Linked DNA regions of Homo sapiens. The protein of the gene in region 1 purifies or fractionates together with the protein of each later gene. This does not show direct contact. Each region holds a gene or a part of one and is shown on either strand. Other genes may lie near its edges.

Region 1 (3,694 bases):
AACAACCTGGCGGAGAAAGCCAAACGCTGTAACCGACGCCTTAAGTCCCAGATCTTGCTTAAGAAATACCTCATGAAGAGGCGCTGGAAGGTACCGCTGGATTCAGGGTGGGGAGGGAGGGCTTGCTAGTGGGAAGAGCTCCTGGTGCCAGATCCCAGCCTCCACCGTCCCTGCCTTGGCAGGTTCTGTTGACCAGGCTGGGCCCTGTCCGGAAGACAGGGTTGACTTTTCTGTTTTTGCCCTGGGCTGGCTCCTGTCCTAGAGTGGAGACCTCTACCCGGCCTTCCACCCAGCCCCACCCATCTGGGGCTCTGGCTTCCCTCCTTCATTTTTCAAATATTTCTTGAGCATCTACTACTTCTAGGCATTGGGATATAGGAGTGGACAAAAGAGACAAAGATCTCAGTCTTTGTGGAGTTACTTTTGGTGAGAGATGGGGCATTTTCTATCTTTTTTTCTTTCTTTCAATACAGTCTTGCTCTGTCACCCAGGCTGGGGTACAATGGCGTGATCTCGGCCCACTGCAACCTCTGCCTCCCAGGTTCAAGCAATTCTCCTGCCTCAGCCTTCCAAGTAGCTGGGATTACAGGCACCCACCATCACACCTGGCTAATTTTTGTATTTTTAGTGGAGACGGGGTTTCACCATGTTGGCCAGGCTGGTCTTGAACTCCTGACCTCGTGATCCACCTGCCTCCGCCTCCCAAAGTGCTGGGATTACAGGCGTGAGCCACTGTGCCTGGCTGAGGTGGGGCATTTTCTAGAGCCCTGTGGAAATAGGCAGGGTTAAAGAAGACTTTAGAAAAAAAATAAGGGCCTTCTGCCGGGGAGAGGTTGCACTTTTATTTTTATTTTTTTTAGAGACAGGGTCTCACTCTGCCTCCCCAGCTGGAGTGCAGTGGCGCTATCATGGCTCACTGTAGTCTTGACCTTCTGGGCTCAAGTGATCCTCTCCTTTGGCCTCCTGAATAGCTGGGACCACAGACATATGCCACCACATCCAGTTAATATTTTAAAAATATTTTTGTGGAGATGAGGTCTCGCCATGTTGCTCAGGCAAGCAATCCTCCCGCCTTGGCCTCTCGAAGTGTTGGGATTACAGGTGTGAGCCACTGTGCCCAGCCTGCACTTCTAAATAGGGGGGGTCAGGAAGGGCTCACTGAGAAGCATGTGAACAAAGACCTGAAGGTGGGGAGGGGTGAGCCGTGCCAATACTGGGAGAAGAGTATTCCGGGCAGAGGGAGTAGCCAGTGCAAAGGCCCTGAGGCAGAGGTGTGGTTGGAGAGTTTGAGGAACAGGTAGGAGGCCAGTATGGATGGAGTGGAGTGAGCAAGGAGGTAAGGAATGAAGTTAGAGAGGAAGAGGGGGACAGGAGTTGGAGGGACTCATCGGCCATGGCAAGGGGTTTATCTTTTACTTGGAGCAAAACTGGAGCCATGGGAGTGTTTGGAGCAGAGCGGTCCTTGGTTCAGGTCTGGCTGACCTATCCGTTGAGTGAGGGGACTCCTGGACAATACAGTGTCATGGCGCCTCCCGTGGCCATTTTGGGCACTGCACCTTCTCTAGCCTGTGACCCTCCTGGACTGAAGGGGACTTACAGGCTGCTCAGACACCCTGCAGCTGCCCCCCTGCCCTGGTGTTGACTGGGACTCCCTCTCTTCTGCCCTCTAGAAAAACTTCATTGCTGTCAGCGCTGCCAACCGCTTCAAGAAGATCAGCAGCTCGGGGGCACTGATGGCTCTGGGGGTCTGAGCCCTGGGCGCAGCTGAAGCCTGGACGCAGCCACACAGTGGCCGGGGCTGAAGCCACACAGCCCAGAAGGCCAGAAAAGGCAGCCAGATCCCCAGGGCAGCCTCGTTAGGACAAGGCTGTGCCAGGCTGGGAGGCTCGGGGCTCCCCACGCCCCCATGCAGTGACCGCTTCCCCGATGTGAGCCGCCTCGGAGTGTGGCCTGGATCCATCCTGCTAGCACCTCCCCAGACAGGGCTCCAGCCTGTCGGCCACACCCCAGACTCCAGGCCCCCGTTGAAGCCGCTCCCGGTTCCCTCCCCAGCTCCTCGTCTTTGAACTGCCGCCGCCGTGGTGACCCCTGCTTTGCCCCACTGGGAGAGTCCTTAGCCTGGGCCTCCTCCTAGCTGGAGTGCCATGGCTGGGGGGTCTCAGCATGTAGGGCTTCTGTGGTTGTGGATGGGAGGCTCCTGGTGGGGCAGAAAGGCTGCAACGCTGATTCCTAAGGCCCAGCTGCCAGGGAAGACAGAGCAGGCTTTGTGAGAGAGGACCTCCATGCCCCCGCCACCTCCCCACTCCAGCAGATAAGGCCGAGCCCACACCATCTGGCCCAGGCTGGCCCCCACCCACCTTCCTTGCGACCACCAACACACAGGAACTCTGTGTGAGAGAGAGGGCGCCCAGCCCAGGCCTGGTGGAGGGGGAGGGGAGAAGCCAAGGGACACAGGAGACCACCCCCGAGCTTGCCTCAGGGCCAAGCCGGCCCAACCCAACCACTCGGGGCCCCCATCTTGGGGGTCACCCATGGCCTCAGATGATGGGGTCAGCAGGCCCAGGAGAATTAGGAAGGCCATGGGGCAGCCTCCAGTCTGCTCTCAGCTTGTGCCTTGTAAATAAATGTACAGGTTGGATGTGGCCTCCTTCCCTCTGTGTGTGCCTGCACTGGTGTGAGGTCGCTGATGACCACAGTTCACTGAGCACCTACTGTGTACCGGACACTTTAGCAATATCCGTCAGCTCACAGTTTGGTGGTTCATGCAGGCTCAGGTGCCAGTCTGCCCAGCACATGATGTGGGCAGGTGGCTTCTGCACGTTGTGCCTCAGTATCCTCACCTGTGAGAGGGAGGTCGCAGCAACAGCCTACACCGGGTGTGTGATTACTGCGTGCCCAGCTTTACTTAAAGCGCCTGTGCTGTGTTAACTCATTTACTCCTCACAGCAAAGTTACGAGGCAGGATTGATTGGTTGATTGATTGATTTATGATGGAGTCTCACTCTGTCGTCCAGGCTGGAGTACAGTGGTGTGATCTATGCTCACTGCACGCAACCTCCGCCTCCCGGCTTCAGGTGATTCTCATGAGGCAGGTATTATTATTCCTGTTTTACAGAGGGAGAAACTGAGCCAGAGAGAGTGGGCAGCGCTAGGATCTACCTCATAGGGTGGGGCCATGGCTGCAGCATCAGTCAGACTGAGGTAAGGCACTTAGGGCTGTGCTCGGCCCAGGGAACGATAATGTTCTTATCCTTACTCCACATATGAAGAAACTGAGGCTCAGAGGAGAGAAGGAACTTGAATGCCACTCAACAAGTCAGGGACTGGGGCTTGAAAGGAGCTTTTCTGTCTCCCAGAGCAAGGATGTGCCCATGCGTTCCCTCTGCCTCTCACCAGGACAGGGTGTAAGCAGAGAGTCCGGTCTCCAGGTGGAGGCCAGGTCTGGCAGGCCTGCGATGCCTTTGCTGGGTCTACAATGAGGGCCTCAGGGGAGAGGACTGTTCTCTGATTTTTCCCAGTGGCCACGGCCACCTCACCACAAGCCAGCAGTGAGGGGCAGGGGAGGCTCCATCTGGGGGCAGCCCAGAGGGCAAGAGAGCTGAGCCCTGATACAGTGCAGCCTTTCTGGCTGTGAGGACGACTGAGAAGTGGGACTGGCCTGTGGGAACAGAGAGGTTCCAGCAGGAAGAGCAGA
Region 2 (4,279 bases), on another chromosome or scaffold:
CTAGGGAGGCCAAGGTAGGAGGATTGCTTAAGCCCAAGAGGTCAAGGCTGCGGTGAGCCATGAGTGTGCTTCTACACTCCAGCTTGGGCACAGAGTGAGAGGGGGAAAAAAGTAAATATATAGGTATGTGCACACACCTGTATGCATATTTTTTTCATTAAAAAAACCCGTGATCTTGCTATACAAAATCTCACTGTTTTTTAACAGGCTAATAATCTTCTGTATGAATAAATACACAATTTAGCCCATCAGTCTTTTTATTACTAGACGTTTGGAGATTTTTATTTCCAATTATCACTCGGTACTTCCAACATTCAGTGTTTGCACGAACCAGAGATAAATACCTTTGTGTGGTCAAAGTAATATAATTTTTGATAACTTAGTGAAAGGAGAATTCTAGACTCCAAGGATATGGCCCTTTATTTTCACATAGCTAGTTTACAAATAGCTGTCCCGGCCAAGTTCAGTGGCTCACGCCTGTAATCCTAGCACTTTGGGAGGCTGAGGTGGGCGGATCAAAAGATCAGCCTGGCCAACATGGCAAAACCCCACGTCTACTAAAAATACAGAAATTTGCCAGGTGTGGTGGTGGGCGCCTGTAATCCAAGCTACTCAGGTGGCTAAGGCAAGAAGATAGCTTGAACCTGGGAGACTGAGGTTGCATTGAGCCAAGATAGTGCCACTGCACTCCAGCCTTGGCGACAGAGTGAGGCTGTCTCAAAAACAAAAACAAAAACAAAAAGCTGTCCCAGGTTGTACCCTACCAACAATGGGTGACGGTGCCTATTTCACTAAACTCAACATCAAACTTACCTTGTTTGCCTGTTACCTTGTTGCCTGTTATATAGAAGAAAAGTATTTCATTGTATTTATCTGCATTTTTCTGCAGGTGAGATTTTCGTTTGCATTTCTTCACAGATTATACTCTTCTGATAATTGGACATTTGTGTCGTCTGAATGGCCTTTTCATGCCCTTTGCCGATTTCTGTGCTGGGTTGTTTGTCTTATTGAGTTATAAAGACTCATATAAAATGTTTCTATTGTTTTAATCTGTCATTCAATTTAATCTGATTCGACTTGTGGTATTTTGATCACTAGGCTTCTAGATTTTATGTTACGCTTTAAAAGGACTTCTTTGCTTTTAAATTATTAAAAATATGACTGTAAGGCCAGGTGCGGTGGCACACGTCCGTAATCCCACGATGCAGGTGGATCACCTGAGGTCAGGAGTTCAACACCAGCCTGGCCAACATGGTGAAACCCTGTCTCTACTAAAAATACAAAAATTATCTGGGTGTGGTGGCAAGCGCCTGTAATCCTAGCTACTTGAGAGGCTGAGGCAGGAAAATCGCTTGAACCCGGGAAGCAGAGGTTGCAGTGAGCCGAGATCACGCCACTGCACTCCAGCCTGGGCGACGAGTGAAGCTTCGTCTCAAAAAAAAAAAAAACTATATGTATAACTCTGTTATATATAGAAAGAATAATATTTATGGTTTTATTTTTACATTTTACATTTGGAGGTTTAATTAATTTAGAATGTATTTTGCATGTGGTGTGAGGTAGGTAGGGATGAAAACATGAAACATTTAGGCTGGGCGTGGTGGCTCATGCCTGTAATCCCAGCACTTTGGGAGGCTGAGGCGGGCAGATCACCTGAGGTCAGGAGTTCGAGACCAGCCTGGCCAACATGGTGAAACCCCGTCTACTAAAAATACAAAAATTAGCTGGGCATGGTGGCGGATGCCTGTAATCCCAGCTACTCGGGAGACTGAGGCAGGAGAATCACTTGAGCCTGGGAGGCGGAGGTTGCAGTGAGCTGAGATCATGCTGCTGCACTCCAGCCTGGGCAACAGTGCAAGACTGTGTCTCAAAAAAAAAGAAAAGAAACATTTGTCATCAGAAAGATCACTTCTGCCCCTCCCAGTGCGTCTCCCCTCCCAGCCCCTGCAAAAATAAAAGTCGCTGTTGTGATTACTTCACCAGATATTAGTTTTACCCATTCTAGAACTTCATGTAAAATGGAGCCATGCAATACTAGCTCTTTTGTGTCTCATTTGTTGTTTTGTTTTGCTTCTTGTAATCAGTTTTATTCTAGAAATTTACAGTACATTTTGATATCTGATAGGGCAGGTCGGTAAGTTTTCTTGAATTATTTTCAACTACTTTATCAGTGGGTTTTATCAAGATTTTAACTGAAAATAGAGGGACTGCTGTAATGTGTGAATTCAAAATGCTTTAAAATTCCAGAAAGCATATCTCATGTAATCTCAGTTCTCCTCCTATTGCTTGGACTTGGAGAAAATGACATCCCTTTTAAACAGCACTTGGCCAAAACAGAATTGTCACTTTAACATTTTTTTTAAAAACTGCTTATACAGCAAAAGTCACATTCCACATGACGTGACTCTCACCATCTTAGCAGACTCTCAAAATAATTATCAGGGGCTGTGCGAGATGGCTCTCGTCTGTAAGCCCAACAGTTTGGGACACCGACGCGGAAGGATGACTTGAGCCCAGGAGTTGGAGAGCAGCCTGGGTGACATAGTGAGACCCCATCTCTCCAAAAAATTAGAAAAATTAGTCAGATGTGATGGCGTGCATCTGTAGTCCCAGCTACTCAGGAGACTGAGGTGGGAGGATCACGTGAGTCCAGGAATTTGAGGTTGCAGTGAACCATGATTGGGCTGTGATTGCTCTCCAACCTGGTAACAGGGCAAGACTCTGTCTCGAAAAAATAAAATAATTACCAGGAAACTAAATTTATTTGTAGTGTCATCACAAAGTACAAATTAATAGGATGTTTTATGGTGTTTGAGAATGTTTTGTAACTGGAGATGCAAAGTTGGCCTGTTTGCTTGGTTAAGTATTACCCAATCCTTTGCTGCTGGCTTGTTTTGTTCAGTTTTTGTTCATTTTGGCAATTTCATACTTAAGTTGCAAGAATAATGCAAGGAATTCCCATATACCCTTTACCCAGAGTCCCCAAATATTGCCATCTGACTACATTTGCCTTGTCCTTTTCTCTCCTTGTATGTATGTTTTTACTAGACCGCATGGTAAGTTGCAAGGCGCATATGCCCCTTTGCCCTACGTACTGCAGTAAAGTAAGGATATTACCTAACTGTAGATGTCCAGATCAGGAAATTAACATTGATACAATACTGCCACCTCGTCTTAGTCCTCATTTAGATTCAGTAGTTTGTTCCAATAATATTCTCTATAACTCAGACAAAAAATGTCCAGAGTCATGCATTGCATCAGGTTGTCATGTTTCCTTAGTTTTCTTTAATCTTGAACACTTACACTTATTTTGTAGTTTATTTTTCTATTTGAATTGTTTTGGGTTCTCCCCGCCCCATAATAAGGATCAAGTTATACGCTTGTCAGAAATACACCAGACATGTTGTATTCCTGTTTTTTGTTTTGTTTTGGTTTGAAACCGGGTCTTGCCCTGTTACCCAGGCCAGAGTGCAATGGTGCAATTGTAGGTCACTGCAACCCTGAATTGCTGTGCTCAAGCGATCCTCCCACCTTGGCCTCCCAAAGAGTTGGGATTACAGACATGAGCCACCACGCCCAGCCTATATTGTCATCAGAGTATACTATCCAGAGGCACATGCTGTCAGTTTGAGCCATTATTGGCCATGTTAGCTGACTTCAAATGCTATTGGCCAGGTTTCTCCACTGGAAAGTTACTGTCTTCCTTTTCACAGTTACATTTGTGGGGAAGATACTCTGAGACTTTGTAAATATCCTGCTCATCGTCCATTAGTTTTAGCAACCACCAGTTCCTGTCTATTCATTTATTCTGGTAGTTGCCAAATGGTGATTTTTTAATTTTGTTATTGTTTGTTTATTACTTGGTTTACTGACATAAGGAATAGCTTGCCCTTTGCCCTCATTTATCTGTGTGAACTTAGATTATTTTATTCCATAGGTTGAAAGCCTTTATGCTTATTTACTACAATGTGCAAAACGTTCCATTGGGAACCCTGTCAGACAGGCTCCCCTGTCATTTCCACATGTTCATGCCATTCTTGGGATACTTTTTTACCTTCTGGAATGGCAGGGTACGTGAGTCTCATCTTATGCTTTTCCTGCCCTTTCCCCGGAATCAGCCATTTCTTCCAGGTGCCCTGGGCCCTTTTGAGGAGAGCTATTAGAAACCAGGGTCTGCAGCCAGGCGCGGTGGCTCACGCCTGTAATCCCAGCACTTTGGGAGGCCGAGGCAGGCGGATCATGAGGTCGGGAGATCGAGACCATCCTGGCTAACACGGTG
Region 3 (4,279 bases), on another chromosome or scaffold:
GAAGTGACCTCTCGTTATAATTCTCATTTGCATTTCCTGGTGACTAATGATATTAGCATCTTTACATGTGCGTATTGGCCACTCACGTATGTTCTTTGGAGAAATGTGTATTCGTATCCTCTGTTCATCTCTCCAATTGGGTTGTCTTTTTTATTAATGATTTGTAAGGGTTCTTTATATATTCTTGATACCAGGTCCCTTTTCAGATATGATTTACAAAAATTTTCTCACATTCTATGGGTTTTTTCACTTTCTTCTTCTTCTTCTTTTTTTTTTTTTTTTTTTTTTTTTTGAGACAGACTCTGACTCTGTCGCCAAGGCTGGAGTGCAGTGGTGTAATCTTGGCTCACTGCAACCTTCACCTCCCAGGTTCAACCCATTTCTCCTGCCTCAGCCTCTTGAGTAGCTGGGATTACAGGTGTGTACCACCATGCCTGGCTAACTTTTGTATTTTTAGTGGAGACGGGGTTTCACCATGTTTGTCAGGCTGGTCTCAAACTCCTGACCTCAGGTGATCTACCCGCCTCGGCCTCCCAAAGTGCTGGGATTATAGGTATGAGCCACCATGCCCGGCCACTTTCTTTATAATAATGTCTTTTAACGACAAAAGTTTTGAAGTTTTGTTGCTTGTGCTTACTCTTTTTTCTTAAATAAATAAATAGGATACTTTTGGGAGAGCTTTGTTATGTGGTGTGGAGAGTGGGCATAAAACATCTAGCTTTTATCATTATTTGAGTAAGAGGAAGTATTTTACAGTCTTTGAATATAATAATGAGTACTATGAAATGATGTAATGAAAAGTGCTGTGTGTACCCTGTGGTGACATATGCCTGTGACTAAAGACAAGGAGAAGAAAACTCAACAATGAAAGCTGATTGAGTTATCAGATTATAGGTGATTTAATTTTTTTCTCAACATTTTTTAGCTATTTTATGTCACCTTATAAGTGGGCATAGCAATGAAAAGAATTACTGAGGTGGTGGATTTGTTTTATTTTCCAAACTGGAAATGTTCTCAGTTCATTTCCTTATGCACCGTACTTCTAAAAGCAGCTCCGTTAGTTGACCATTTAACTTTGTTCCAGCTTCACTAAAACTGCCTAAAGCCTTTATGCTAAAGGCTTTACTTACATCCTTTTTCCAGTCCTTATTTTTTAAGTTCACATCACAGTCCTGTGAGGTGTATAGAATAATCCCCTCTTGAAGATGAGGCGAAAAGAGATTCAGCTCCTTGCCCAAAGATACTAAGTAGATGAGCCAGGACGTGAGCCCAGGCCTGGGTGGCCCCAAGCTCAGCCACCGTGCCACCCTGCCTCCTTTGGACAGGTGCCTGCTATGCTGGAAGTTCAGAGATGAGCAAGGCTGTCCTGGGGGAAGCAGGGGTCTGGTGTTTCAGCAGGTGGAGGAAAGCAGCTCTCTGTCCCCTCCTAGACAGTGGATTTGGGACCTTGTGCCTGATTCCTTTTGCCTTTGTTTCTAGCTATGAGGGCACTGGCCGGTCACTGTCCCTCAAGCTAATTCAGCAGCTCCGTCAACAGAGCGCCCAGAGCCAGGTCAGCACCACTGCTGAGAATAAGACCACGACGACAGCCAGATTGGCATCAGGTACCCCAGAACCTGACCCGGGTCCCGCGGTTCACAGCAAGGCCCTTCAGTCTTACTGATCCTCGCTTCCCCTGTGACATCATGGGAAGCACCAAACCTTCCCACCATCAGGCTGAGAGGTTGAGTCCCCAAGAGGAGAAGTAGCTTTTTTCGGAGGAACAGCAGTCCAGTGACCAGATGGGAGCCAGACTAGGGCCTTCTGATGGTGGGGCCCTTGTGTGTCCTTGTCTCAGGGCATGGTTGCATTGAGATCCCTTTGGGGTTGGTATCGTGGCAAGTTGAATATCCACCAAAAACAATTTTAAACCACCCAGTTTAAATTCTTACCACACGTCTCTGGCCACCATGGGACAAATATAAAGTGAAACATTTTTCCTTGCTTTTTTAGACAATACATATTTAATCATTGTTTCTTCTTTTGTGTGTGTGATTGTGGGGAGCAGCGCGGACACTGTATGAGGTTTCCCTCCAGGAGTCAATCCGATACGCCCCTGGGGATGCAGTGGAGAAGTGGCTGAATGACTTGCTGTGCCTGGATTGCCTCAACATCACTCGGATAGTCTCAGGCTGCCCCTTGCCTGAAGCTTGTGAACTGTATCCTCCTCTGGGTTTCACTGGCCCTGTGAAAAGGAGAGGGGCGGTGAAAGAATTCAAAGGACTTGAGTCCTTTGTTTCATAGGATGCTGCTCTAGAGAAAGGGGAAAGTTGAACATTTTCAATTTCCTTTTTCTCTTCCTTTTTTTTTTTTCTTTCTTTTTTTTTTTTTTGAGATGGAGTCTCGCTCTGTCACCAGGCTAGAGTGCAGTGGCACAATCTCAGCTCACTGCAACCTCTGCCTCCCGGGTTCAAGTGATTCTCCTGCCTCAGCCTCTTGAGTAGCTGGGATTACAGGTGCCAGCCACCACGTCTGGCTAATTTTTGTATTTTTAGTAGAGACAGGGTTTCACCATGTTGGTCAGGCTGGTCTCAAACTCCTGACCTTGTGATCTGCCTGCCTCAGCCTCCCAAAGTGCTGGGATTACCGGTGTGAGCCAACGCGCCTGGCCCTCTTCTTCCTTCTTTTATGTGTTTCTGCTTAGGACACTGAGCTCCTGTTCCCAGCTACGGAAATTTGTTCTGCCTCCAGAGAGTAGTATGACCTGTCTTCGGCTATTTGTTTTGTTTTGGTTTCTTAACTCCAGACCCAGGTACTATGTTAATAGAGATACCCTCTTTTGCTACCACAAGGCCTCTGAAGTTTTCCTCCAACGGCTTATGGCCCTCTACGTGGCTTCTCACTACAAGGTAACTGCAGCTAGCCCTTGTGTGAATGGTAGCAGGGAGCTTCAGCATTTGGCAGTCCCCTTTTACTTGATTTGCATATTTTATTACCCAATGGCTTAGGTGACTGTTCCATTGGGACATTGATGAGTTCCACTGATCTTGCTGTGTGTAGGTATAGAGCATGTAGCTCCATGCAGTAACGGGACAGGGTGGAAAGCTGTGTCCATTTTTAAAGGAGTGCTTTCATTTCTTGCCTGCCTACTAAACTGATAGGATGAGGTGACATTGCAGTTGTGGCCCGGTGGTGCAGTTTGACCTGAGACCAGCTTTATAGCTCTGGGCTACTTTTATGGAACAGTGAATTTGAGGGTTTAGAATATCTGAGACTCTTAAAAACAAAAGGGTTGGTTAAAAAGGATACTTTTTGAATGTCTAGATAGTATTTTTATGAACAGCTTTTAATGGAAGGCTTGAAGAGTTGGTGTTAGAAGTGGTGACAGTTTTTCCTGAAATAGCAGCCTCTTATCTGTAAAAAGTTCACTTCCTAGCTGTGAAATAAGTAGTGCTAAATAAATTCTCTTCTTCTGTCCAGCCTCAGTGCTCGGGGTGAGAGGACAGTAGGCATTTGAGGCTAAGTTCCACTTAACCTGTTATGAAGAGTCTCAGGCTTGCCAAAATACTAGAAAGGTGCTTTGCTGGACTTCTGCTCCTCACTTGGCTTTGGAGAAGGCCATACTGCAGTCATCCTGTGGTTCTGAATCGAACCTTTTGCGTAAAGGGCAAGAGGAAGAGTGCTTCTCACTGACCCGTGTTTGGCTTCCACAGAACTCTCCCAATGATCTCCAGATGCTCTCCGATGCACCTGCTCACCATCTCTTCTGCCTTCTGCCTCCCGTGCCCCCCACCCAGAATGCCCTTCCAGAAGTGCTTGCTGTTATCCAGGTATAGGAGCAGAGGCGTCCTTGTGGCAGTGATTTGGGGAACCACTGAGGCATCAGGAATTAGTGGCTTAATAACTGCATTGTGGGAGTTTTGAAACTGTGGAGTCCTGGTCTGGAACCAAGGGGCTGGGTCTGCTGAGACAGGTGACTAGGGTGCACTGGAAGAGGTTAGCGCCACTAGACACCCAAAGCTCCACTGTTGACGGACGGGGAAAAGCCAGAACCGACCGCTCTCTTATTTTGACTCACAGCTTCTTCCACAAACAGACTTGTTTGTTTTCTCCCTTTATTACAAAAGCAATACATGGTGCATTTTGAATTAGAGGCTACAGATTGGGGAACAAATTTTTAATGCCTAGCATGGATGTATTTATGCATTTCTATATCACTTTTCCTTTTCATATACATAGTAATCTGCTTTTATTTTTAGGCAGTGTATAAAACACTCATAATCTACATAAGTTTTAAAGC
Region 4 (4,279 bases), on another chromosome or scaffold:
CACTACGAGTGGTATCCACTCCTAGACAGTCTTAGTAGTTTCTCAGATGAAGGAAATAAGGCAAGGATATTGATAGGGTTTTGGGGCTTGGGCTGGGTGATTTGAAGGTAGGGAACTGGTGAGGATTAGGCAGAGTTTATGACATAATAGCTTTAGACTGGTAAGTACAGCTAGATGAGGGCTGTGAAGTGAGTGTTAATGAGCAAACTAGTCTTGATAAGTAGGCTATTTTTGTTGGCATATAGTCTTCTGAAAGTGACTATTTCCTAGAACAAATAGCTAGGTTATTTTGCCTGGCTGCAGCATTTTTTAGCACAGGAAAAGGAAAGCGTGTTGGTTTTAGTTCTCAGGAGTAACATGGGAAGGTCTCTCTGGCAATAGTGAGGAGGGCAGACAAGGGAAAGATGGGTGGCAGGGGATCCAGTTAAGCAGCCAGTGTATAAAGTAGGAAAGAACAGATAAAGTCATGAGCAAGGAAACACTGCTATATTTGCATGCATCCATAGGGTCAAAAAACTTGAGAATCATTTTATTGATTATTTTAGTTAATGATTCATAGATAATTCAGATAGATCATAAAATGGTAATCTTTAAAATGTAGCACAAAAAGGTTTTCCAGTTTAAAATAATAACATGCGTTTGCTGAGGATTCACTCTCAGACACTTTGCTGAGCACTTTATGTGAATTTGATCAATTAATCCTCAAAAGTTTATGATAGGTTAGTTTTCTTCATTTCCATTCTGAAAATAACAAAACAAGGGCGTGGAGAAGTCAAATGATTTCCCCCACAGTCATATAGAGAGTGATAGAGCTGGATTTGAGCCCAGGACATCTGTGTTCAAAAGTGCTTTTAACTTCTATGCTACTGTGCCTTTTATAAAAATAAATCAGCTAACATAAAGTCTAAAGATATTTGCCTTTGTATCTTTAGCTAGTCTGGAGGCTTGGGTGTTGTTTTCCTGTAAGCTTAAGACAGAGGTCAGCAAACTTTAACTGTGAAGGGCCAAGTGGTAAATATTTTAAGCTTTGCTAGCCATATGGTCTCTATTGAAACTACTCATCTCACTGATGAGTAATTTGTCACTGACATAAGTAAACAGATAGGCCCGTGTACCAATAAAACTTTATTTACAAAAAGGGGCTGCCAGTTGTATTTGGCCAACAGGCCATAGTCTGCTGTATCTTCTTTGCATTTCTCTCAGTTTGAATTTATAATTACAGAATATCTACTTCATTAAGGACGATTAGCCTAAAAATATCCATCAACTTTAGGAAATTTCTAATATGGCTGCCATGCATTGAGGAAGATACAGAAAACAGATGATATCTTTCATGTCCTTATGCACATAATTTTGTTGGATATACCTTACACAAACAGACATATGTTGCTATGGCCTGAATGTTTGTGTCTCCTGCAAAATTCATATTTTGAAACCAAATTCCCAATGCAATACTATGAAAATGTGGATTCTTTAGGAGGTAATTAGGTCATGGGGGCAGGGCCCTCATGAATGGGATTATTGCCCTTATAAAAGAGGCCTGAGGGAGCTTGTTCATACCTTCTACCATGTAAGGAAGCAGCTAGAAGTTACCATCTATGAAGCAGACAGCGAGCCCTCACCAGACATGGAATCTATTGGTGGCTTAATCTTGGATTTCTCAGCCTCTCAAACTATAAGAAATAAATTTCTGTTGTTTATAAGCTACCAATTTATGGGATTTTGTTATAGCAGCCTGGCTAGGCTAAGACATATGCACATGGCAACCTTTCTGTAATAAGGAAAGGTGGAGACAGGAAAAACTATGGGATTCAAAGGAAAGGAAAATAACTCAGAGCTTACACTAACCCTAATCAGAGAAGACTTCCTGAAGGATATGAACTCAAGCATGTCTATGAAGTTGGTCAAAGCATTTATAGTGAAAGGAGAGCAGAAATGGTATTCTAGGTGAAGAGGACTTTTTTTGTAAAGGCACCAATGTGGGAGCTTATACAAAGGACCATCTGGCTGAAGCTAAGCATTTGGGTGCAGGAACTGTTAGAGATCAAAGCAGAAAAGTAGATTGAGATGAAATTATAAAGGCTCTTCTATGCTAGCTCCAAGAATTTGGACTTTTAATATTGACAAATGGTTCTTAATCAGGAGTAATTTTGCCTCCCATCCCAACTCTCTGTAGCCATTTGGCCATTTCTGGAGGGATTTTTGGTTGTCACAAGTCTGGGTGGCACACTACTGGCATCTACTGGGTAGAGGCCAGGGCTGCTCTTAAGGATTTTACAGTATACAGGCCAGCAACCCCCCGCCCACCCCCCAACAAAGAAGTACCTAATCCTTAATGCTAAATGTGGGACACTCTGTAGTAGTAAGCCATCAGTGAATCTGCAAGTAGGATCAGTGAATCTGCAAGTAGGGGAATGGAGTCATCAAAATGGTCAAGACTGATGCAGTAGCACTGTGTGGATAACTCCAAATGTAGAAAATGGATGTAAGGAGTCTCTTCATTGGCTTGTTTTTCCCAGAAACATTTGAGGGTCTGCTATGTACAAAGCATGGAACCAGGCATGGTAGGGTAGAAAGATGAGTAAGGGACAGTTGAAGTCTCTGGAAGCTTTTAATCTAGTGTGCTGGGGTGGCTGCAGAGGTGGTGGTGGCTAGTAGGAGACTTGTAATCAGAACCCTTTGCTCCCCCTGCCTCTCTCTAGCTCTCACTCATCTTGTGGCCACCGTGCAGATTCTGGACTCCTCCAGACTCAGGGCTTTCTCCAGCTCTTTTCCTCCCATCTAGCTTCTGGGCTTCTAGTCTCTCTTACCTTTTCGCCTTGCTCTGCCTTCTTGGCTCTACGTATTCTCCTACATAATAGTTTCTTTCTTTCCTGTACAAACCTGTAAGACTGTTCCTACTCCCAAATATTTACCCATTTCTCCCCATTTTCTTGATCAGCATAACCAGAACCTCAGGAGTTCATCAGGCACTCGAAAATTTTCCCTGGGGTAATGAAGTGAATAGATGGAGGAAAAGCTGTGAATACTTTTGCACTGGTAATTTTAATTTACTGCTATCAATTTTAATCCTTTTCACAAGTATTCACAGATTGGTAATATAAAACCAAATATGATAATGAAATATAATCAAGGATTCTTTTTTTCTTTTAAAATTTGATTTACTTATGGATTTGCTTTGAATTGCCATAAATTGCAGGAGGGCCTGCACAAGGAGGGTGCTGTTGAGACCAGAAAAGAGGCCACCGGTATCTGTGTGGGTGCTACAATCTCCAGACCATCACAATTGGTTAGCAGGTGGGTAGCAAGGAAAGGGAGACTTTGGAGATAGTGCTGTGGTCTGGAGGAATTCAGAACATGAACTATGTGAGCAGAGCCGTGCTGAGCTGGAGAAAGCACTGTCTCTCCTGTGCTGGGAAGAGACAGTGGCCCTGGGCTAGGAATGTGTCTGTGGAGCACAGATGGTTGCCAGTCCCCTCTTCAGATACGTGGAGCCTAGAGTGCTGAGTCTGGGCTGAAGTGCAGTACTTGTCCTCAGGTGTTATTGTGTGAGGCTGAGGGGAAAAGCTAGAAACCATGTCTCCAGCAAAATCCATCTATTGATCACCCATCTGAAGGGCTGGGCTGAGAGGGGGACCTCAAAGAAGGAAGAGCAGGACTGCAGGCAAGACAGCCAAATGGCAGGGTAGGGGGTGCTTTAGATGGGGTGGGTAGGTGGAGATTAGGGGCACAGTCCCAGTCTCTGGGTCCTCATAGACCTAGCTCTTAGGCACATGATGTAGTGTGGTAAGTTGAGGCCTGTGGAGGTGCAGAGTCAGGGGAGTGGCTTTACACCAGGAGAAAGGGACTTTTTCTCAGCCCTTGGCTGACACTTCTCTATCACTAATGCCACTTCTGAGCATCTAGGAACGAGGGAGAGAAGTGAAGTTTCTTGGTCCCTACACACATACCTTACAATAACACACCTTCCTAGGTTTGAGGGAGAGAGCACGTCTCATTGGTAATCATTATTTAGTCATTATTCTTTTCAAGTGGGGCAGGTGCAATAGTATTTTGCAAGGATTTTTGAGAGCAAAGTCATTTTTTGCTATAGCTGTATTAAAAAGGTGAATTTCTAAATGGGTTATTTGGGGCTGATTTGCAAATATATTAAAGCCTTGGCAACTTGTGGAAGTTATGAAATTTATGAAAAGAGTCACAACACTTTTTCTTTCCCTTGAAGGATACTCATAATCCCTTAAAAGCCACAAATGATTCAAATTACTGACTGCTGTAAAAA
Region 5 (3,659 bases), on another chromosome or scaffold:
TGTTATAAAATGAAGTGTATACAGTACACTCAACGTATATCTTAAACATAATTAACAACAGATATAAAGTGAGGATCTTGTTTTAATTACCAATCCCTCCTTACCTCGGTACTGGAGAAAATCAATGGATAGTTTATTCTGTACAAAGTTCAGGAGCTTGGCCCACCTTTAGCAATATTTTCTCTCTCTTATAAAATGAGAAGAATTATTTTCTCATAAAGAAATGGTCATATCTTGGCCAGGTGCGGTGGCTCACGCCTGTAATCCCAGCACTTTGGGAGGCCGAGGTGGGTGGATCATGAGTTGAGGAGATCAAGACCATCCTGGCCAACATGGTGAAACCCTGTCTCCACTAAAATAAAAAAAATTAGCTGGGTGTGGTGGCACGCACCTGTAGTCCCAGCTACTCAGGGGGCTGAGGCAGGGGAATCATTTGAATTTGGGAGGTGGAGCTTGCAGTGAGCCAAGATCATGCCACTGCGCTCCAGCCTGGGTGACAGAGTAAGACTCCGTCTCAGAAAAAAAAAAAAAAAGAAATGGTCACATCTTATGGGTTGTGGAAAGATCCTAGTCTCACTTTTTCCTGTATCTGGCAATACAGCAGGTTTTTGTTCTCTTTTGGTTCTCTTTTCACTTTGATTTTGATTAGGGACACTGTGTTTGTTGGGGTAAAAGGCTATGCATGTGAGGGGAGCTGGGATGAAGTCGCAATAAGCATGACCACATTCAGCTTAGAACCTTCTTTATTAAGGAAGGTCTTTCAGGCACTTTCATTAACAGGCACATATAAGCTTAGCAAGAGCACCTTTCAAAGTCACAGTTCCAATGGTTTTTGTAAGGTCAACCAGAGGCAGAGAACACAATCATGGTGGCTTACCGTCAAAATCATGACAAGTTGTCAACCTAATGCCTTCTGTCAAACATAACCACCACCCACTCTGCTTCTGTCCTGTGAGGAATGACGGGAAGTAGGGAGTCAAGACTTGATATTAATGTAGATCGCATGTGACACTTGCGTGGCCAGCAGACAAGGCCCCCCACCCATGCCCAGGCTTGGACAAAATGGTGGCTATGTTTTCTGTGCCAAACCTCCTCATCTCTGCCATGTCTAGCCTAGACCTTGAAGTGTCTGATCCTCCCCGGACATGGAGGAACCACTGGCCCAGCAGCAGCACCAACACTAGGCTGCACCACTGTGCGTGTTTTCCGGGGGTGCGACACTTCTCCTGAGGGTGACCCCAATGAGACCACACCCATGAAGGTGTGGCGCAGGTCGTAGTGCGCCCGGTGCAACTGGTGTCCTGGAGGAGCTGCCAGTAACACATGGGAGTCTGGGGGTGAGCCAGCTGGAGGGAGTCCAGGTGCGCCAAGTGGAGGGGACGGAGGTGCATCTGGGTCCACCACGGGTGTGGGGACTGCTTCATTGGCACCTTCTGGTTGGGGCTGTGAGCTCACGGGCTGGAAAAAGGACCATTTCCTTCAGTTAGTTTGCTTCCTCCTCCCAGGCAAGACAACCCACAGGCCCAGGTGGCACTGGCACCCAATTTCCTCACATTATACATTTTTATTTGCAAAGAGTCTAGCAAGAAAGGACCTACCCAAGTACAAGGGATTGTCATCAAGGTTACAAGGAGGGGTGACTGGCCTATGTTGGCCCCGGCCTCACTAGGATTGTCTTTGTGATGGTGGACTTACACGCATATGTCCAATGAGTAAAAGCACCCCACCTATGGCTCACCCTTGCCCAGCAGTGCCACCCTCTTTGTCATCTGAAGCTGCAGCCACTGGGAGCTAACAGGTAGATCTGGCCACCTGGTCTCTGCAACTCAGAAAACCACTCCCACCTCCCACAAATAAAAAGGTGGCTTTGTCAACTACACAGTAAGATGGTTCTTCCCTGTAGTCACTAGTTCGTGGGAGGGAAAGGCATAGCTAAAATATCCTTCCATTTGTTGATGATTCCGCATACCCCAGTGTTATTTCATACTGTGAGATTCAGAAGCACAGGAGAGCAAATGTCCTGTCATCACTACTGCACTGCATAAATGTGAAGGGGTCATTGTATTCTGAAGGTGTAGGCAAGAATATTCACGGAGCTGTTACCTGTGTTTGGAACACCATGCAGGTCACTGCAACCTCTGCCCCACCAAGCTTCTCACTGAGTGTTGCCTTACAAAAGCCATATTGCTGCCCACAGAGAAAGAGGATTTATTTTAACTAATTTCAAAAATGGATCCCCCCCAATTTCATTGACGCGCCAACCTTAAATTAGTTTGAAAAACCATTTTTCTTAAAGTTATAGTTTCTGCTTGTGGGAGGTATATGATTCTATATATAACATGGAAATACAGAAATACTTTGAGAGTGAGAGAGATTACCCATAATCCCTTTCTGGTGGTGGCCTAGAAAGAAGGACTGTTAACATTGATGCATTTCTTTCTTATTTTAAAATACTATTAAATATGATTTAAAAATTGAGATCATTGTGACTATACGATGTTGTATCCTGTGTGTTTTCACTTGCCATAATAGCATTTTCTCATATCATTCATTATTCCTTGAAAACACAATTTTTAGTGTCTGCACAATTTTCTATTTACTGATGTGCATGGATTATTCAATGACACCTTCCTGTTGGACATACAGATCTCTCTTTTTTGGTCTCTTTATATCCATAATAAATCATTTTTATAGATATATTCTGTCAAATGTCACTGATGAATTCTTTTTCTTTTTCTTTTTTTCTTGAGACAGAGTCTCGTTCTGTTGCCCAGGCTGGAGTGCAGTGGCACGATCTTAGTTTACTGCAACATCTGCCTCCTGGGTTCACACCATTCTCCTGCCTCAGCCTCCCGAGTAGCTGGGACTACAGGCGCTCACCACCAAGCCTGGCTAATTTTTTTGTATTTTTAGTAGAGACGGGGTTTCACCATGTTAGCCAGGATGGTCTCGATCTCCTGACCTCCCGATCCACCCGTCTTGGCCTCCCAAAGTGCTGGAATTACAGGCATGAGCCATCATGCCTGGCCACTGATGACTTCTTTAGACTAAAATCCTAGAAGTGTACATTATTGGCTCAAGGACTTGAAAGCTTTTGTATCAGAGTTATATGTCTAGAAAATGTGCACTTCACATTCCCAGTGGGTGGGCGTGACTTGGCTTCATTAGCAAATAGCCTCTCTCTTTCTCCTAACTTCATGTGCTTCCAGTGGGTGAGATGATTTGATGACAGCTCTTAAAGGGATGAGGTGACACCCTAAAAGAAGGCTTGCCGTGATCCACAGGGAGAGGGGATTTGCACTGTTATTCTCTGTCTGCAGCCCCAAGATACAAACTATCCAAGGATGTTCTGTTCCACAAACAGCTCTGTCCGAGTGGTAACACCCCAAGGTCCCGGCCCACTCACCTTTTCTGCCAGCAGGTTACACTTGGCTGCCTCTGTGGCCTCTTTAGCAACACAGTCAGTGCCAGACACTGTAAACTCCACATAGGTAGAAGGTGGGAGGGGCTGAGAAGAGTACATGAAAATGCTCTTGAGGAAAGATGACTTACAATGAAAAGGGCAGAGAAGGAGAGCGGGAAGTAGCCTCCTTCGGGGAGCACCATTCATGCAGACCATGCGTCGGCCCAGAAGACATGTCCCTCAATGGCTTACATAG
Region 6 (4,279 bases), on another chromosome or scaffold:
TTGGCTCATAAAATGACTAAATTGCCAGTACATGACAAAAAGGACAGCCCAGTGTTGTGGGTCATGCTTCTATTCCCAGCACTTTGGGAAGCTGACGCGAGAAGACCGTTTTTGAGGCCACGGTGTACAAGATCAGCTTGGGCAACAAAGAGACCTCATCTCTACCTTTAAAAAAAGAAAATTGGCCAGGCATGGTGGCTCAACAGTCCCAGCTACTCTAGAGGCTGAAGCAGGATGATCGCTTGAGTGTAAGAGTTTGAGGCTGCAGTGAGCTATGATTGACCTCGAGCCACTGCACTCCAGCCTGAGCAACAGAGAGAGTCTGTGCAAAAAAGAAAAGAAAAGATTTGTTCTTTGAAGGCCTGATCAAATAACCTTCAAAATATCTGGGCATATCTTGTGAGAAGTTTTATAAAGTCAATTTTAGAGCTACTGGCTTTTTCAAACTTTTTATTTCTTTTAAAGTCAATTTTGGTCATTAATGTTTCCTTAAAAATTAACTATACCACCTAGACTTTTAAATGTATTTACACTAAGTTTGTTCATATAATGTTCTTCTATTTAAATATTTTCCATACCTGGCCAGGCATGGTGGCTCACACCTGTAATCCAAGCACATTGGGATCACTTGAGCCCAGGAGTTTGAGACCATCCTGGGCAACATAGTGAAACTCTGTCTTTACAAAAAAATACCAAAGTTGGCCGGGCATGGTGGTGCACGCCTGTAGTCCCAGCTACTCAGGAGGCTGAGACAGGAAGATTGCATTGAGCCCAGGAGGTTGAGGCTGCAGCAAGCTGTGATCACAGCACTGCACTACAACCTAGGCAACAGACTGAGACTGTCTTAAAAAAAAAAAAAAAGAAAAGAAAAAAAAAATCTTCCATAACTAATGCCCTTTTTTGTCACTGTATTATACTTGTGCCTTTTCTTTTCTTATCTGATGAATTACAGATTTTTGCCACGGACTTGCCTATTTTAATTAGAGAAGGCTTGCCAAAGGAAGATCTTATGTTGACGTTTTCAAAAAGATAACAGAACTCAGTCACTGAAAACTGAATGTTATAATTCTAGACTCCATCCCATTCCCCCAGTCTTTACCTTCTTCATACACCAACTTTGCCTTCTGTCCAGGGGAAGTTGCTCCCTTTGTCTTCTCTGATGCTGTTACCTGGAAGAAGATAAAGTACTGTTCTGAAGTAGAGTGTAAACATATCCCAAGTATCACGACCACCAGCATACCCAACCTTCCCCACTGCTTGCTGCTAACTCACCCTCCACCACCATAATGGAGGACCTTCATACAATACAGAGCAAAAAAGTCCTTCAAATACAAGAGGGAAAGAATTACTCTGTAAAGCTGAAAAACTCTGAGGTGATTAGAATATCTTTCTGTGCCAAAATTTTAACTGTATAAATATCCTATAACTTACTAACTGTATAACAACTGAAACACAATGGTGAGAAAAAGATTTGAGTAAAAGTTGAAACAGACACAACTAAACTTTCTTACTGTCAAACTGATAAGCTTTCCAAGTTAAAGACTAGATCCTGATTTACCAATTTCTTACTGAAACAGGGAGCTCTCAGCCAGGCGTGGTGGGTCACGCCTGTAATTCCAGCACTTTGGGAGGTCAAGGTGGTAGGATCCCTTGAGCCTAGGAGTTCAAAACCAGCCTAGGCAATGCCATCTCTACGAAAATTTAAAAATTAGCCAGGCATGGTGGTGCATCCGTGTAGTCCCAGCTACTTGGGAGGCACTTGAGCGAGGCTGCAGTGAGCTATGATCATGCTACCGCAGTGCAGCCTGAGCGACAGAGCAAGACCCTGTCTCAAAATGATCCTTATTCCTCTCTCCATTCCTACCATGTCCAAAAGTTTTAGCCCAGAACAATATGATTTACTCACTTGTGTAATTAGAAGAATAAGCTTTCCATGAAGGTGTGAAAGTTTCTGAAAAGTTTTGACTCTGCTTTCCATTAACTGGTAGAGTGTCCCCAGCTGGGGTACCAGGTCAGGCAACTAGAGAAAAAAATGATCATTTGGCACTATTAACGTATTAGAGATGACGAACACGCAAATCATGCTCAGCTATGCCTCAGTATTTAGCCACTGCACCACACACATCTGCTTACAAGTACTCCCAGTGGCAGTGGCTACCTGCAACATAGCCTAACAACATCACGAATTTTCACAGAAGACCCTCAATGTCCTAGGAGGAAAAAATAATAGGCTTATAAAAAAAATGATATAAGGGCAAGAGAGTGAAACTGCAAGGTGGCACTTTTCTGTATTGATCAAACTATTTCAGATAAGGCCAATATCCCATATAAAGTAGACAGGAAATTAAAAATGCCTCTACCACGTATCTCCAGGCTAAAGAGGCTTTCCTCTGAATCTTATCCTCTGATGCTAGCATATTATCTACCCTTACTGTAAGGCCCCAAAGAGGCAGAGAAGCCTTTTCCCAGCTCCCAGAGACCAGTAGAACAAAGTACAAAGTTGACCTTTTGCATTTTAAATATACTTCCTGTTAATGAGTCCTCTGAAACATATTTAAAAAATGAAAGTAGGACATTCTCTTTTTTGCTCCCATGTTGCTCTCATCAGAGTCTTTTGTATTGAGAATATAGCTGTTATATTTGGAACACAACACGACTGATAAAGGTCTGGCTCCTCCAGGTTCACTGAGGAATAAAACAATGGTAATTTGCCTTTCTCATAAAATCTTAAAGTCCCCTTGATCATTTTTAACAATATGAAAGGAAACCATGATGGCCATAATTTTTCTATCCTAGATCAACTATAAAAAGCAACTGGAAAAATTTAAATGCCTCTTTTTAAAGGAAGCCATTTGGAAGTCCAGAACAAGCCTCTTCCTGTCCCACTGCCTTCAAATACCTGCCTCTGGTTAATTTTCCTCCCATCTCTGGGCTCTAAGAACAACGCTGGCAGCTGGGCGCGGTGGCTCATGCCTGTAATCCCAGCACTTTGGGAGGCTGAGGCGGGCAGATCACCTGAGGTCAGGGGTTCAAGACCAGCCTGACCAACATGGAGAAACCCCATCTCTACTAAAAACACAAAAATTAGCCAGGCATGGTGGCATGTGCCTGTAATCCCAGCTACTCGGGAGGCTGAGGAAGGAGAATCATTTGAACTCATAAGGCGGAGGTTGCGGTGAGCCAAGATCGTGCCATTGCACTCCAGCCTAGGCAACAAGAGCAAAACTCCGTCTCAAGAAAAAAAAAAAGAAAAAGAACAACGCTGGCTTCCCCACCTCACCCCCTACCCCCGTGATATTCTGATATTCTTTTATCTGTCCCTGTAGCACTACAGAAAAACGGACTCCATTCTTTTTTTTTTTTTTTTTTGAGACGGAGTCTCGCTCTGTCGCCCAGGCTGGAGTGCAGTGCCATGAACTATGCTCACTGCAACCTCTGCCCCCCCGGGTTCACGCCATTCTCCTGCCTCCCTCAGCCTCCCGAGTAGCTGGGACTACAGGCACCTGCCATCACGCTCGGCTAATTTTTTGTATTTTTAGTAGAGACGGGGTTTCACCGTGTTAGAAAGGATGGTCTTGATCTCCTGAACTCATGATCCACCCGCCTCAGCCTCCCAAAGTGCAGGGATTACAGGTGTGAGCCACCGTGCCCAGACTCCACTCCTTACCTCTGATTAGCCTTTACCTGCACTCCTATTTCTAATACTTTAGTAAAAAAGTGTTTCATTCAAATGTTAACTTTAAACAGCAGACAGACACAAAAATTAGTAAAGCAAGGTTTAAGGTCATTGCATTCCAATTTATCACCTCCCTTTTGTGTCCCTGTTCAGACTATGAGCTCCAAGAAGATGGGGACCAGAGTGTTTGGTACATTGCTGAATCCCCATGCCTGGCATAGCCCTTGGCTTACAGAAGGCACTTAAAAATATCAGCAAAGGAAGGAAGAAATGAAGGAAAAGAGCGAGGAAAACCATGGTTTCCTTGATAACTGCTACGGGCTGAGGGGCCCTCCCTATACCATTCTTTCGTCTGTTCTGCCACGACCTTGAATGTTACACCACAACTACTCTGGTTATACCTCAGGAGTTGATTCCAGAAAAGATTTCACTACAAGATCTCCCGGGTCTCTCCTCACTTCTAAGCAAGTAACTGAGGCCACATTAGTGTTGCCCCATTTGCCATCCAGATTCCTAAGATCCGATGTCTGCTGGGATCGTTCATGCAATTGCAATGCCCCTCGGCCACCCTCTCACCAGTGCTCCCAAGTCACCTCCCAAAAC
Region 7 (4,279 bases), on another chromosome or scaffold:
AAAAAAAAGAACTCTGAAGGAACCTTTGTTAGATAGTCCTTCTCTATGTTAGCATTGCCTTTCTAGTTGGGCAGCTGGGGTGCATAGGCCTGGTTCTCAGACAAGGGGATTTGAAGTTTCAGACGTGTCATATTCCAAAATGCTGTGTTAACAAGTAAGGCCTCCTATAGATCTACTTCAAGTTTGGCCAGGTTTCCTTTACCACCTTGTTTTTCAGATAGGACTGAGGCTTTCAGTGCATACTGGCAACCTTGGAAGGCAGGAATGTGAAACTTTTCCCTACTACTTAGCATCAGAATTGAATGGGAGACCGCATTCTGCCATTTCTGGCGGCAGTGTGGCTCTGCCAGCTGGCCTTCTGCACGGTAATTCAGAGGCAGCACCTTGGTTTGGTGGTTGTGTTAATCAAAGCATATGTGTTTGGTGGGTCTCTGCTAAAAATGCCCATTTTGTTTTTTTTCTGTTTCTACATCAGGATCCCCTAACAACAGTGAGAGAGCAATGCGAGCAGTTGGAGAAATGTGTAAAGGCCCGGGAGCGGCTAGAGCTCTGTGATGAGCGTGTATCCTCTCGATCACATACAGAAGAGGATTGCACGGAGGAGCTCTTTGACTTCTTGCATGCGAGGGACCATTGCGTAAGTCAGTGGGAAGTCAGGAAGGGGAAAGGTTGCAATGGTCAGGGAAGACTTGGTGCCAACAATCTTTCCATGCTAGGGAAAGGCCCATCAGTTACTCTGGGCCCAATATATGTGACATATGGTGCGCTGAGCATTTTATGTAAATAACCTATTCTATTTTATTGAGAGGGTCTCACTATGTTGTCCAGGCTGAAGTACAGCGGCATGATCGTAGCTCAGTGCCAACCTTGAACTCCTGGGCCTAAGTGATCCTGCCTTGGCCTCCCAAGTAGCTGGGACTACAAGTGCATGCCACCATGAGAGGCTAATTTTTTATTTTTTAATTTTTTCTAGTGACGGGGCCTTGTTATGTTGCCCAGGCTGGTCTCAAACTCCTGGGCTCAAGCAATCCTTCCTTCCATCTCGGCCCTCTGAAGTGCTGGGATTATAGGCATGAGCCATTGTGCCTGGCCTATAAATAATCTTGCCTAGGGCGCGGTGGCTCATGCCTGTAATCCCAGCACTTTGGGAGGCCGAGGCGGGTGGATCATGAGGTCAGGAGATCGAGACCATCCTGGCTAACAAGGTGAAACCCCGTCTCTACTAAAAATACAAAAAATTAGCTGGGCGCGGTGGCGGGCGCCTGTAGTCCCAGCTACTCGGGAGGCTGAGGCAGGAGAATGGCGTGAACCCGGGGAAGCGGAGCTTGCAGTGAGCCGAGATTGCGCCACTGCAGTCCGCAGTCTGGCCTGGGCGACAGAGCGAGACTCCATCTCAAAAAAAAAAAAAAATAATAATAATAATAATCTTGCCTAATCCTTACTACTTCCACTGGAGATAGGTATCATTATCCCATTTCACAGATAGAAACTGAGGCTCAGAGAAAAAAACATAAACATCCCAACATGCACCACTAAACAGTGGGGAAGCTGGATTTTGTACTTTTCAATAACAGACTGTTCTTTAAAAATAATTTGTATTGGCCGGGCGCGGTGGCTCACGCCTGTAATCCCAGCACTTTGGGAGGCGGAGGCGGAGGCGGAGGCGGAGGCGGGCGGATCACGAGGTCAGGAGATTGAGACCATCTTGGCTAACACAGCGAAACCCGTCCCTACTAAAGTACAAAAAATTAGCCGGGCGTGGTGGCGGGCGCCTGTAGCCCCCAGCTACTCGGGAGCCTGAGGCAGGAGAATGGCGTCAACCCAGGAGGCGGAGCTTGCAGTGAGCCAAGGTTGCGCCAAAAAAAAAATAATTTGTATCCTCAAATGTGTCTAATATATAGTAGTTGGTCCAAAAGGTTGCTTTTTTTTTTGAGACGGAGTCTTGGTCTGTCGCCCAGGCTGGAGTGCAGTGGCGCGATCTCGGCTCACTGCAAGCTCCACCTCCCGGCTTCACGCCATTCTCTTGCCTCTGCCTCCCGAGTAGCTGGGACCGCAGGCGCCCGCCACCATTCCCGGCTAATGGTTTTTTTGTTTTTTTTTGTTTGTTTGTTTTTGTTTTTTTGTATTTTTAGTAGAGACGGGGTTTCACTGTGTTAGCCAAGATGGTCTCAGTCTCCTGACCCCTGTGATCCACCTGCCTCAGCCTTCCAAAGTTCTGGGATTACAGGTGTGAACCACTGCACCCAGCCTTTTTTTTTTTTTTTGAGATAAGGTCTTGCTTGCTCTGTCACCCAGGCTGGAGTGCAGTGGCACAATTATGGCACACTACAGCCTCTACCTCCTGGTTCAAACAATCCTTCTGCCTTAGCCTCTGAGTAGCCAGGACTATAGGCACATGCCACCATGCCTTGGTAATTTTTTTTTTTTTTAATTTGAGACTGAGTTGCACTCTGTCACCCAGGCTGGAGTGCAGTGGCGCAATCTTGGCTCACTGCAACCTCCACCTCCTGGGTTCAAGCGATTTTCCTGCTTCAGCCTCCCAAGTAACTGGGATTAAAGGTGCACGCCACCACACCCAGCTAATTTTTTGTTTGTTTGTATTTTTAGTAGAGACGGGGTTTCACCATGTTGGCCAGGCTGGTCTTGAACTCCTGACCTCCAGTGATCCACCTGCCTCAGCCTTCCAAAGTGCTGAGATTACAGGCGTGAGCCACCGCACCTGGCCCATACCTGGGTAATTTTTGTATTTTTTGTAGAGATGGGATTTTGCCGTGTTGCCCAGGCTGGTCTAGAACTCCTGGGTTCACACATGCCACTCATCTCAGCTTCCCAGAGTGTTGGGATTACAGGTGTGAGATACCATGCCTGGCCTCAAGGGGTTGTTTTTTAAAAGTAAACTCAGGCAGGGCATAGTGGCTGACGCTTATGATCCTAGCACTTTTGGAAGACCAAGGCAGGAGGACCCCTTGACCCCAGGAGTTTAAGACCAGCCTGGGCAAGATAGGGGAACCCTGTCTCTACTTTTAAAAAATCAAAATTAAAAAAATAAAAATAAACTTCTGCTTGACTCTTACATATAACACAGTAAGGTATTTTACATAAATTATACATAAGCAAAGTTTGATGTGGTTGCTTCTATTAAAACTAATTGGATGGCCAGTAAACGTATGAAAAGATGTTCAACATCATTAGCCACCAGGGATACTACCATGAGATAACACTTTATACCAACTGCCCACTAGGATGGCTATAATAAAGAAGATAACGAGTGTTGACGACAATGTGGAAAAGTTGGAAACCTCATACGCTGTCAGTAAAAGTGTAAATTGGTACAGCCACTGTGGAAAACATCTGGCAGTTCCTCAAAAGGCTAAATATACAGTTAATATATGACACAGCAATTACACTCGAAGATATATACCCAAGAGAAATGAAAACATATGTTCACATAAAAACTTGTACACAAATGTTCATAGAAGCATTATTTATACTACCCAAAAAGTGGAAACAACATAAGTGTCCATCAGCTAGGCTGGGCACTGTGGCTCATGCTTGTAATCGCAGAACTTTGCGAGGTCAAGGCAGGCAGATCACCTGAGCCCAGGAATTTGAGACCAGCCTGGGCAACATGGTAAAACCCTGTCTTTACAAAAAATATATATATAAAAGCCGGGCGCGGTGGCTCACGCCTGTAATCCCAGCCCTTTGGGAGGCGGAGGCGGGTGGATCATGAGGTCAGGAGATCGAGACCAGCCTGGCCAATATGGTGAAACCCCATCTCTACTAAAAATACAAAAAAATTAGCCGGGCGTGGTGGCGGGCGCCTGTAGTCCCAGCTACTTGGGAGGCTGAGGCTGGAGAATGGCGTGAACCCGGGAGGCGGAGCTTGCAGTGAGCTGAGATTGTGCCACTGCACTCCAGCCTGGGCGACAGAGCGAGACTTCATCTCAAAAAAATATAGACAGATAGATAGATAGATAGATAGATAGATAGATAGATAGATAGATATAGATAACCAGGCAAGCTGGCTCACACCTGTAGTCCTAGCTACTTGGGAGGCTGAGGTGGGAGGATCACCTGAGCCTGGGGAAGTCAAGGCTTCAGTGAGCCATGATCACGCCACTGCACTCCAGCCTGGGTGACAGACTGAGACCCTGTCTCAAAAAAAAAAAAACAAGTTCTTTTCTCAAAAATTAAACATAGAATTATGTACTATATGATCTAGCAATTTCACTTCTAGGTATATACCCAGAAGTATTGAGAGTAGGCTTAAACAGAT

The links.
Region 2: the proteins of MYLK2 (region 1) and SAFB purify together in Homo sapiens (affinity purification with mass spectrometry; one large-scale study listed by BioGRID and IntAct). This does not show direct contact.
Region 3: the proteins of MYLK2 (region 1) and NAT10 purify together in Homo sapiens (affinity purification with mass spectrometry; one large-scale study listed by BioGRID and IntAct). This does not show direct contact.
Region 4: the proteins of MYLK2 (region 1) and HTR7 purify together in Homo sapiens (tandem affinity purification; one large-scale study listed by IntAct). This does not show direct contact.
Region 5: the proteins of MYLK2 (region 1) and AHSG purify together in Homo sapiens (affinity purification with mass spectrometry; one large-scale study listed by BioGRID and IntAct). This does not show direct contact.
Region 6: the proteins of MYLK2 (region 1) and WDR43 purify together in Homo sapiens (affinity purification with mass spectrometry; one large-scale study listed by BioGRID and IntAct). This does not show direct contact.
Region 7: the proteins of MYLK2 (region 1) and UQCRH purify together in Homo sapiens (affinity purification with mass spectrometry; one large-scale study listed by BioGRID and IntAct). This does not show direct contact.

What each region holds. Positions count from the first base shown.
Region 1 is NC_000020.11:31,832,047-31,835,740, forward strand, and holds the end of MYLK2 (myosin light chain kinase 2, skeletal/cardiac muscle), read left to right. Parts: coding exon 1-90; intron 91-1,670; coding exon 1,671-1,751; 3' UTR 1,752-2,638; downstream 2,639-3,694. UniProt on the Homo sapiens protein: Implicated in the level of global muscle contraction and cardiac function. Phosphorylates a specific serine in the N-terminus of a myosin light chain.
Region 2 is NC_000019.10:5,629,321-5,633,599, forward strand, and holds part of SAFB (scaffold attachment factor B1), read left to right. Parts: intron 1-4,279. UniProt on the Homo sapiens protein: Binds to scaffold/matrix attachment region (S/MAR) DNA and forms a molecular assembly point to allow the formation of a 'transcriptosomal' complex (consisting of SR proteins and RNA polymerase II) coupling transcription and RNA processing.
Region 3 is NC_000011.10:34,129,334-34,133,612, forward strand, and holds part of NAT10 (RNA cytidine acetyltransferase), read left to right. Parts: intron 1-1,479; coding exon 1,480-1,604; intron 1,605-2,047; coding exon 2,048-2,198; intron 2,199-2,791; coding exon 2,792-2,888; intron 2,889-3,692; coding exon 3,693-3,809; intron 3,810-4,279. UniProt on the Homo sapiens protein: RNA cytidine acetyltransferase that catalyzes the formation of N(4)-acetylcytidine (ac4C) modification on mRNAs, 18S rRNA and tRNAs.
Region 4 is NC_000010.11:90,742,611-90,746,889, reverse strand, and holds part of HTR7 (5-hydroxytryptamine receptor 7), read left to right. Parts: intron 1-3,199; coding exon 3,200-3,297; intron 3,298-4,279. UniProt on the Homo sapiens protein: G-protein coupled receptor for 5-hydroxytryptamine (serotonin), a biogenic hormone that functions as a neurotransmitter, a hormone and a mitogen.
Region 5 is NC_000003.12:186,618,385-186,622,043, reverse strand, and holds the end of AHSG (alpha-2-HS-glycoprotein isoform 2 preproprotein), read right to left. Parts: intron 3,509-3,659; coding exon 3,407-3,508; intron 2,188-3,406; coding exon 2,104-2,187; intron 1,459-2,103; coding exon 1,114-1,458; 3' UTR 726-1,113; downstream 1-725. UniProt on the Homo sapiens protein: Promotes endocytosis, possesses opsonic properties and influences the mineral phase of bone. Shows affinity for calcium and barium ions.
Region 6 is NC_000002.12:28,939,202-28,943,480, reverse strand, and holds part of WDR43 (WD repeat-containing protein 43), read right to left. Parts: intron 2,021-4,279; coding exon 1,907-2,020; intron 1,170-1,906; coding exon 1,100-1,169; intron 1-1,099. UniProt on the Homo sapiens protein: Ribosome biogenesis factor that coordinates hyperactive transcription and ribogenesis. Part of the small subunit (SSU) processome, first precursor of the small eukaryotic ribosomal subunit.
Region 7 is NC_000001.11:46,309,680-46,313,958, forward strand, and holds part of UQCRH (cytochrome b-c1 complex subunit 6, mitochondrial isoform 1 precursor), read left to right. Parts: intron 1-217; exon of another isoform or gene 218-302; coding exon of another isoform or gene 303-365; intron 366-475; coding exon 476-637; intron 638-4,279. UniProt on the Homo sapiens protein: Component of the ubiquinol-cytochrome c oxidoreductase, a multisubunit transmembrane complex that is part of the mitochondrial electron transport chain which drives oxidative phosphorylation.